Linked DNA regions of Homo sapiens. The protein of the gene in region 1 binds, or shares a complex with, the protein of each later gene. Each region holds a gene or a part of one and is shown in the gene's direction. Other genes may lie near its edges.

The links.
Region 2: the proteins of NRXN1 (region 1) and LRRTM2 are in contact, whole or in part, in a crystal structure (PDB 5Z8Y), measured with the Homo sapiens proteins. Residues at the interface, in NP_001317021.1 of Homo sapiens: Leu139, Val158, Thr160, Arg236, Gln237, Leu238, Thr239, Ile240, Asn242; in NP_056379.1 of Homo sapiens: Asp343, His344, Gln346, Gly347, Glu348, Leu351, Asp352, Ala353, Gly356, Phe357.

The regions. Positions count from the first base shown.
Region 1 is NC_000002.12:49,917,677-49,923,132, reverse strand, and holds the end of NRXN1 (neurexin-1 isoform alpha4 precursor), read left to right. Parts: intron 1-881; coding exon 882-1,189; 3' UTR 1,190-4,630; downstream 4,631-5,456.
Region 2 is NC_000005.10:138,868,095-138,871,009, reverse strand, and holds the end of LRRTM2 (leucine-rich repeat transmembrane neuronal protein 2 precursor), read left to right. Parts: 3' UTR 1-2,089; downstream 2,090-2,915. UniProt on the Homo sapiens protein: Involved in the development and maintenance of excitatory synapses in the vertebrate nervous system. Regulates surface expression of AMPA receptors and instructs the development of functional glutamate release sites.

The DNA.
Region 1 (5,456 bases):
AAGAAGACGTAGGCACCCCAAAATCCATTGGTCTCATCCAAGAAAGAGCCTTATTTATACTTTGGGAAGACTGAAGAAGGGTTTTGTCAGTTGAATAAAACTAGACTAGCCAGCCTTCTATTATTATCTAATCTATTAGGTAGTTCAGAGTTTTGACCAAAAAATCAATCTAGACTGTATTTAAAACTGAGAAAGAATATTTTATTACTTTCTCCTCCAAAGTTCATCTTGGGAGCTCCCCAATCAATTAATAAAATACACACATACTTATGTAAACAAATGAATCTCCAACAAAATGGAAATTAGTCTATTTTTATTTATAAAAATGTAACTAAAGTTATACTTTAAAAAGCAGACAGTTAAAATGTATGGATTATCTTATTGTTCAATACTGTATTCTTTAAAATACAAGGGGAATATGATTTCTAAAGTAATCCTAAATTTAGTTGTCCTGATTCAGTCTAGAGTTAGACCTATGTTCTAGAGCAACACCTATTTGATTCTTATGATTCCCTCTAGTATTATAGGGTAGGGCTGTTCTGCTTTTCTTTATGCTGGGTTTGTGGGTTTTTTTTACTTAAGTCACCCACATGGCCCTTTAGAGCTAATTGGAGTTTATTTGGGACAATGCTTACCAAACTCTGTGAACAAAATTGATTTGTGAAGAAAGAAGACACAGCAACAAATCTCCCAGAGAACTTTAAATCACAGTCCCTAGTTTTTAGTAACCATGAGGCAAAGGGATGGCTACATTTATCAATAGCATACCTTTCCTAAAGCATAGGTGCTGTTAGAATTAGATAATAAATGTTAATATAGCTCTCTGGTATTCAGTGAACTCAATGATCACTTTGTGTTTGTTCTCATCCTCTTTTCTATAGCCAACCCAACCCGAGCAGGCGGCAGAGAGCCGTATCCAGGCTCAGCAGAAGTGATCCGGGAGTCCAGCAGCACCACGGGTATGGTCGTTGGGATAGTAGCCGCTGCCGCCCTGTGCATCCTTATCCTCCTCTATGCCATGTACAAGTACAGAAACCGGGATGAAGGCTCATACCATGTGGACGAGAGTCGAAACTACATCAGTAACTCAGCACAGTCCAATGGGGCTGTTGTAAAGGAGAAACAACCCAGCAGTGCGAAAAGCTCCAACAAAAATAAGAAAAACAAGGATAAAGAGTATTATGTCTGATCCCAAGATCTTAAATGGACACTTGTATAGAAATAGTCTTCATTTTATCTGAGACATAATATAAACTTATTTACTTTCCTTTTTATGAAGCACATACAAAAGAAGACAGGGAATGCAATCAGGAAGGAAAGACTTTTTAAAAAATAAAAACAAGTATCTCATGCTCTTGTTTCTCAAAAAAGAAAAACAAAAAACAAAAAACAGGGGCCAATAAATTCCCTAACATCCACAGTGTTTTCATTTACTCTGCTTGTCTTTATGTTGCTGGAACATTTCTAAAAGACAGTGATGACCGCACGCATTCATAAAGCAAAGGAGTACTACAGCATCAAGGCACAACACAAAAACCAACACAAAACATAACACAAAAAAGAAGCTACCTATGATCCTGGATTTAGCCAAAGTGCTAGCGCTTTCCTGAGAAGTCAGTCCAATTGCCAGAGAAGACTGTCCTTTTGAGTGACTCAACCTGCAAACCTTTAAGAGTTTGCCGCCTGGTGCAACTGGAGCAGTGGTTGGAACTTGCATTTGAAACAAAGTGCTGGCTTTTTTGAAGACTTGTGTAGGAACACATTCAAAAAGCCCCTTTCTGGTTGTGAGAGAGGAAAAAAAAGTATGGAGGCCTTATTTTCAAAAATGTGAAATATAAGGCACGTTTTCACACAAAATTTCAAAACAAAAACAAGAGGGCATAGATGCAATCATTGGGAAATTTTCATGCACGCTTATTATGTTATTACATATGTTTATATAAAATCCATCTCTGTGTGCTTTCTGGACTGTGATAAGTGACGTTTTATAGCCTGTTGTATAGAAAATGCAAAATATATCTCTGCTCTTCAGCCATTTTTGGTAAATTCAATGTTATAAGTGTTGCTAAGTATAGGGAGTTTTATGACATCAGAGCAACAATTATTTCAGTTGGGTTTTTCTTTTTTTTTGCCACCATTATAAATTGCCACAATTACTTTTATTTTTTAAAGAAATTACAGTGTAGTGTTTATTCTAAGGAAGATATGTATGAATGTATATACAAAGACTCAGCTACTTCTTTTCTTATATGTACAGCCTTCATTCTGTTGCAATTAAGTTTTAGTACTTGTATGAAAGGTGTGAATTAGAAAGTCACATATATACATATGTATCTTATAATCTTTTCTCCCTGAAATACTCACATTCCCACATACATTCACTATTTTCACACACACACACACACACACACACACACACACACACACACACACACGAATCCACAGCAATCCATCAGATATGCTGGAAGATCCAAACGTGCATACAGTAGCAAATATTTATTGACAAATTGAAAAGCAGGAAGGAAGAGGGTTGTGCCAAGGTATTGATGACAAATGGGGTGATTTGCTTCATTGAGATCTTGCTCCCAGGTAACCTTAAGAAGATTTTAGTCCCTAAAGAAATGAACCTTTCCTTATCAAATAGAATATCACTGATATACTGCTGCATGAATAAGAACCATTATGTGGGCAGGTTATGGAAGCAAAATTGGTTAATCTACACCTTAACTCTGGCTGCTGCAATTGAAAACTTTCTTTCTAATAAAATAATATATATATCTCTGAATCTGATGTGCATGATGAACATTTCTGGAAAGTAAACACTTTCTCTCGACTAAGAAAGTATTTTTCAGTAATTTTTGATTCTGTATTACTACCCACTTAAAAAATCATTCTCTGTTAATTATTGACTATGTTTTAACTTTTCTGGTTTTACATATATATCATTAAATATAGTTTTAGTTTAACACATTAAGTAGTGGAAAAGTATAGATTATACACTTGTTTTGCATATTATTCAATGATGTTCACAGCAATAAATTACTAATATGAGAAGGTAGTGCAAAAAATGCATTATTACATTGCAAGTTGATGTTTCAGGAAAAATTGGTTGCATTACTTGAATACCTTCTAAAAGAACGATAAAAAATTTTGTAGAAGAGAAGAATATCTTTCCAATTAGCTTTAATCAGCAAAGGCAAAAAATGCAAAACATCTTTTGTGATACTTTAGTTGATGAAAAAAAAGCCAAGAAGTGGCCTGGATTTCAGACATACAGCACCTTAGAAATATGTATAATTCATAGCAAATCACCACTATCTATGGTTGCCAAGTAATTGTTGTGTACAAAGAAATTTAGTGGCTTTTTATGACCCAGAAAGTAGAAGGTATAAAATGAAAATTTAATATCCATTGCTTCTTTTCTAGATTTTCATTTTTTTTAATTTGCCACATTAAATAATTCACGAGTCTTTTCTTTTCCCCCGTCTCATTCAGTCTTACTCAGGGAAAGCCAGTTAAATAAGAAGGGAAGTGTAAAACTACTAATTTACAGCTTGAAGGGTTTTTTTTTTTAAGATTGCTTTTCTATTTTATCTATTAAGCTTGAACCAGTTTCCATCTGGAAAGATTCTAAAATATAATAGAAAATAAATTGAATAATGGTAATTTTAAGCAGTATATCTATGAAATGTGTTGTTTGGGATTGATTTCAATGTTTCTCCCCAGCGTAAATTTTAAAGTTACATGCAATGATTGATATAGTTTATTATCAGCAAAATTATTTCTAATATTATTGGCTTACACAAACTCTAGCAAAAATTATTTTTTCCTCAATGGAAAAAGAAAAGAGAGGAACAGAGTTAGAAAGAGAAAATGACTTGAATCCCAAGTATCTTCATACCAAACATATCAGGGTTCCCTGCATAGTTTGCAGTTGATTGAGGATTTCACACGACTTGGCATAAATTTGATTACATCTCTAGACTGTAACTTTTCTGATTGATTATGCTTCTTTTTTATCCATGTAATGTGTTGCCTTTTTTAAAAGAACAAATACTACAATAACGTGTGAAGTGGTCAATCCCTAAGACATCAAAGAAAGGCCACATAACCCTACCCTTCTAGTGCTTTGTGTGATTGGGTATCAAAGGGGTTTTCTTCTTCTTTTTTTGTTTGTTTGTTTTTCTGTTGCAAGGCCAATTTATCCATTATTGGAAATGCTAAGCAAGTGGAATTTACTGTTTTGTTAATAAAATATTTCTTAATACAACTGTGATTTATTGATTTTAAAAATTATATGCGGCACCATTTCGTGCTTAAGTGGGAAAGTAAAGAAGGCTGCATTTGAAGGGAAGACCCATCCTTATATTATAGAGGAAGAATGTTGACTCTCTTTTTTCTGGATTTAACTAGTCATTAAAGACCTCTATATTCATACACTTAAAGATGTAGCCATTAAATGTACTTTTGTTATATTTGTTCATCTTGATATGCCAGAAACCATAAACTCATACAGTATTAGTTGCAAACAATATTAAAATACTAATTTCATAAATATGCTTTTTCTCTATAAAAGACAATGGAATCCAAGTTAAGTAAACCTGTGATTAAATTCCAACACTATCACATACTCGTTACTATTTGCCTAATTTCTTTGACTCTCACATTGTGTTATTTATTTGGAAAAAAACAAACAAATCTAAATATATAAAAGAACGTAGTGTTTGTTTCCATAAAACTGTATTTATTTCTTACAAAGAAAATTAGCTTTTTAGAAATCAGATGATTTATCAGAGTAAGTAAGTTTTAGTTCAACAGTTGGAAACTGTTGTTTTAAAACCCTGGCACTTGAAAATGATTTTATGATGAAAATGCACTTTTTTTCTTCAACAGTAAAAAGTCTGAACATGAATGCTTAATTCGTTTTGTTCCTGCAGTGTCTAGATATATTTGTTATTTCTTTATTGCTATTAATTCATGACAATCCACATTTTGTTAATGTCTAAATTAAAGGATATATAATTTAGTTTCCCTTAAAAATAGGTAGGCACTTCAAAGGCGGTTGCTATATAAAACTTAGTAATCAGACCAAGGATTTTGGGTCTTAACCTATAGAGGGCATAGATGCCCAGGGCCCAGTGATTAGGCATCAGGGGTTACTAACTTATATGTACAATAATAGAGATAGATAAATGTAAATATATATGTAAAAGATATATATGTATATATAATGGATAGATATATTAATGTAAATATATATAATTGCTATTATATATATATTTAAAATTAATATTTTAATATAAGTATTAAATATTTAACATAAAATAATTATATATAGTATATATTTATACATAAAATAACTTGGCAGGTATATGTAAATGAGCATTTTCCCGATAAAAGTGTTCATTAGGTTCATCAAATCCTCAAAGGGTTTCAAAGTTTCCCAAATGATTGAG
Region 2 (2,915 bases), on another chromosome or scaffold:
GTGCTCTTTTTTAAGGTGGGCAGATTAGTTTGTCAAAGTCTCAGCCCAGTTCAATTCAGTTGATCTCGAGTGGTGAGTATTTTGTCTCTTGTTAAACCAGACCCTGGGCTTGTCTGGGCAGAGACAGAAGCTGATTTAACAGCATAGAGCACAGCGCCCTACTTCCCCACAGACAGGCTGAATTAGAAGCCCCTATTACAAATAAGAGCACCACGAGCTAAAATTTACCAACCCATTTATCAGGATGACCATTGCCATTTGTCAGGTGACAGACAGCTTGGTCACAACACAACTGTGTCCTGAGCACACAAGATTCCATCAGCCCTGAAGGACAGCAGAGGAGTATTTTCCATCATTTCAAACCACAAACAAAATTAAGATTTAAACTGTGGGATGGGTAAGAAATCCCCTTCTTTGGCTGGGAATCTCCACCTTAATCCTTAAAGGACCATAACTGGCAAAATCCTTAGTGTACGGACAAAAGCAAATTGGAAAAGCCAGCCATTTACTAATTCAGAGGAACAGCATAGCCAAGGCTAGCGAGGCATACTTTCCAGTTGAAAAAAATCAAAATTTTTTGCCTTCCATTTTTCTGGGTAATGTCCTTTAAGAAAAGTGAATGACAGTAGTACCAAAAAGGTATTTTCCTTTCTCATTTAAAAGCAAAAACCTCCCTTTTTAATTGCCTGTAGAAGGCAAGATTTTCTTTCATTTTTGTCCATTTGTGTTTCAGAATCAGCACAGGTTTGAAGATTAGACTGTTAGTCATCTGTGCTTTCTTTACCAACTGGCTAGAACGGAACAGCATCACAGCAACGCTGCGGATCTTGGTTACACAGTGTCAGAGCTTTTGTTTTTTGATGGGGTTTTATCCTCTTCACCACCACTACCCACTCCATTTTTTTTCTATTTTTAAGATTAGAGGAAAATGACCATTAAGAACCAGAAAAATAATTAATCTCTCTGGAAAAAGGAAAGCTAAAGAAGACTATGATACCATACCCATCTAGAAACCAAGAACTAGTTTGAAATCGTTTATATTCATTTCTGTAGCATGACAGGGATTTCAATCACCTTTCTGAAAAGAGTGGGCTGATAAACTTGTAAATCCACACACAACTCTGAGAATACCCACTGCCAGCATCAAAAAGCAAAGATACTAATTTTTTAAGCCAAAAATCTGTACTAACACATGTAATTTCTTAATGTGCCTAAGTTAATTTCTGTATCAATTCAATAAATGGAATTGACTGAACTTCCCAACGCCACTAATTATTAAAATCCATCTGCTTATTCTAATGCTAGTCACCAAGAGCTAGACTCCATCTTTCCAATAAAAATGAGCCCTATGTAGCACTAGGTTTGAATTCTAAAATTCAAAACAGGCATTTCATTTTCTTAAGGCACACTTCCTACACACAGCTATCAGGGGAAAAAGCTATAAATGTCCTGTTCTTTTTCTGAAGTGTGGATATCAATATAAAATTTGTTAAAGAATATTTTTAACAGCTGACTTACATGATCGTTTTCCTAATACAGGAATACAGCGACAGACCTATCTGAAAAGTCTGTTTGGGGGCATACTTTTCATATCTTATTGACTAAAGCCCTTGAGCCAGGAAAAAAAAAAAAAAAGAGAGAGAGACAGTAAGGCCATCTATAGATAATTAAATATTTCTCTATCTAACCTGGGGCAAACTCATAGTACTTGAATAAGGCCAAAAACAAATAGAAAATTACTGTTTAAGCTTTCATTCTGCTATTGCAAACATTTGGAAACCTCTGCAACTCTTTCAACTAACATTTTTGTCCTTAGCGGTTTTTTTTTTTTTTTTTAAGTCTGATATATGGAATGTTTGGTGAACCTTCCTATCAACACTGAGACTGGAAACTCAAAGTACAGTCCAAATACATTGTGTTCAATCACCTTCAAGAGCCATTTTTCTTTTTGGGTGGGAGGTGGGCAGATGGGTTGAGGGTGGGAAGAAAATACTATTATGCAGGGTGTTTTGGGAGGGGGGAGGGTAACATAAAGAGCAGTGTACAGGCAAGTTTTGTTATTAAAATTGTGTATACTGTAAAAAGTGAATGCCTTCTTTTTACTTTTCCTTGATAACCTATCAATTTTGACATGTGAAACTTGAAAAGCCATTTGTGACAGACATAGAAATCTTAAATGAACAGTTGTTTTATTCCATGTTCCTCTACAATGTCAAATGTGTCCACTGAAAAAAGGGGCAGCTAATCATTACCTGTCTTCAGAGAGAGGTAAAACTAGGATAAGAAGAAAGTAAAGGTAAAGTGGTGAGAAGGGAGAGTGCCTAAAAAGCTGTCATGCAGTAAGAAGCTGCTCTGTCAAGAGCCTGAGCAAGTGGACAAACAACTGTCCCAGGCTCACAGGGCATGGAGTTGGCTGCCCCTCTCTGAATCCTCCATTACAGTGAACTAACACCACAGAGAGCTTCGGAAAGGTACCAATTGCCTGTATCTAGCCAACAGCGACTTGGCCTCTACCTTGGGGGTTGGTTGATGTCCATCCCAGCAGCACCTTCCATGCCACTCCTAGGAGGGAGGTCCCACAGGTGCTTACACACTAGGACCATGAAGATCCCTACATGACCTCCTCCACCCTGGATGACGACTCAGTGAGTACAGATGGGAAAAGGAAGGGAAGATTTTAAACTACAATTGACCCTTGAACAACACTGGGGTTAGGGGTGCCAACCCCCTGCTCCACACAGTCGAAAATCTGCATAACTTTTGACTTCCCAAAAATTTTTATTAATAGCTACTGCTGACTAGAAGCATTACTGATAACATAAACGGTCAGTCCATATTAGATAACACATATTTAATACCGTCAGTCAAAATAATACATATTTTATATGTTATATGTATGATATATGGTATTCTTA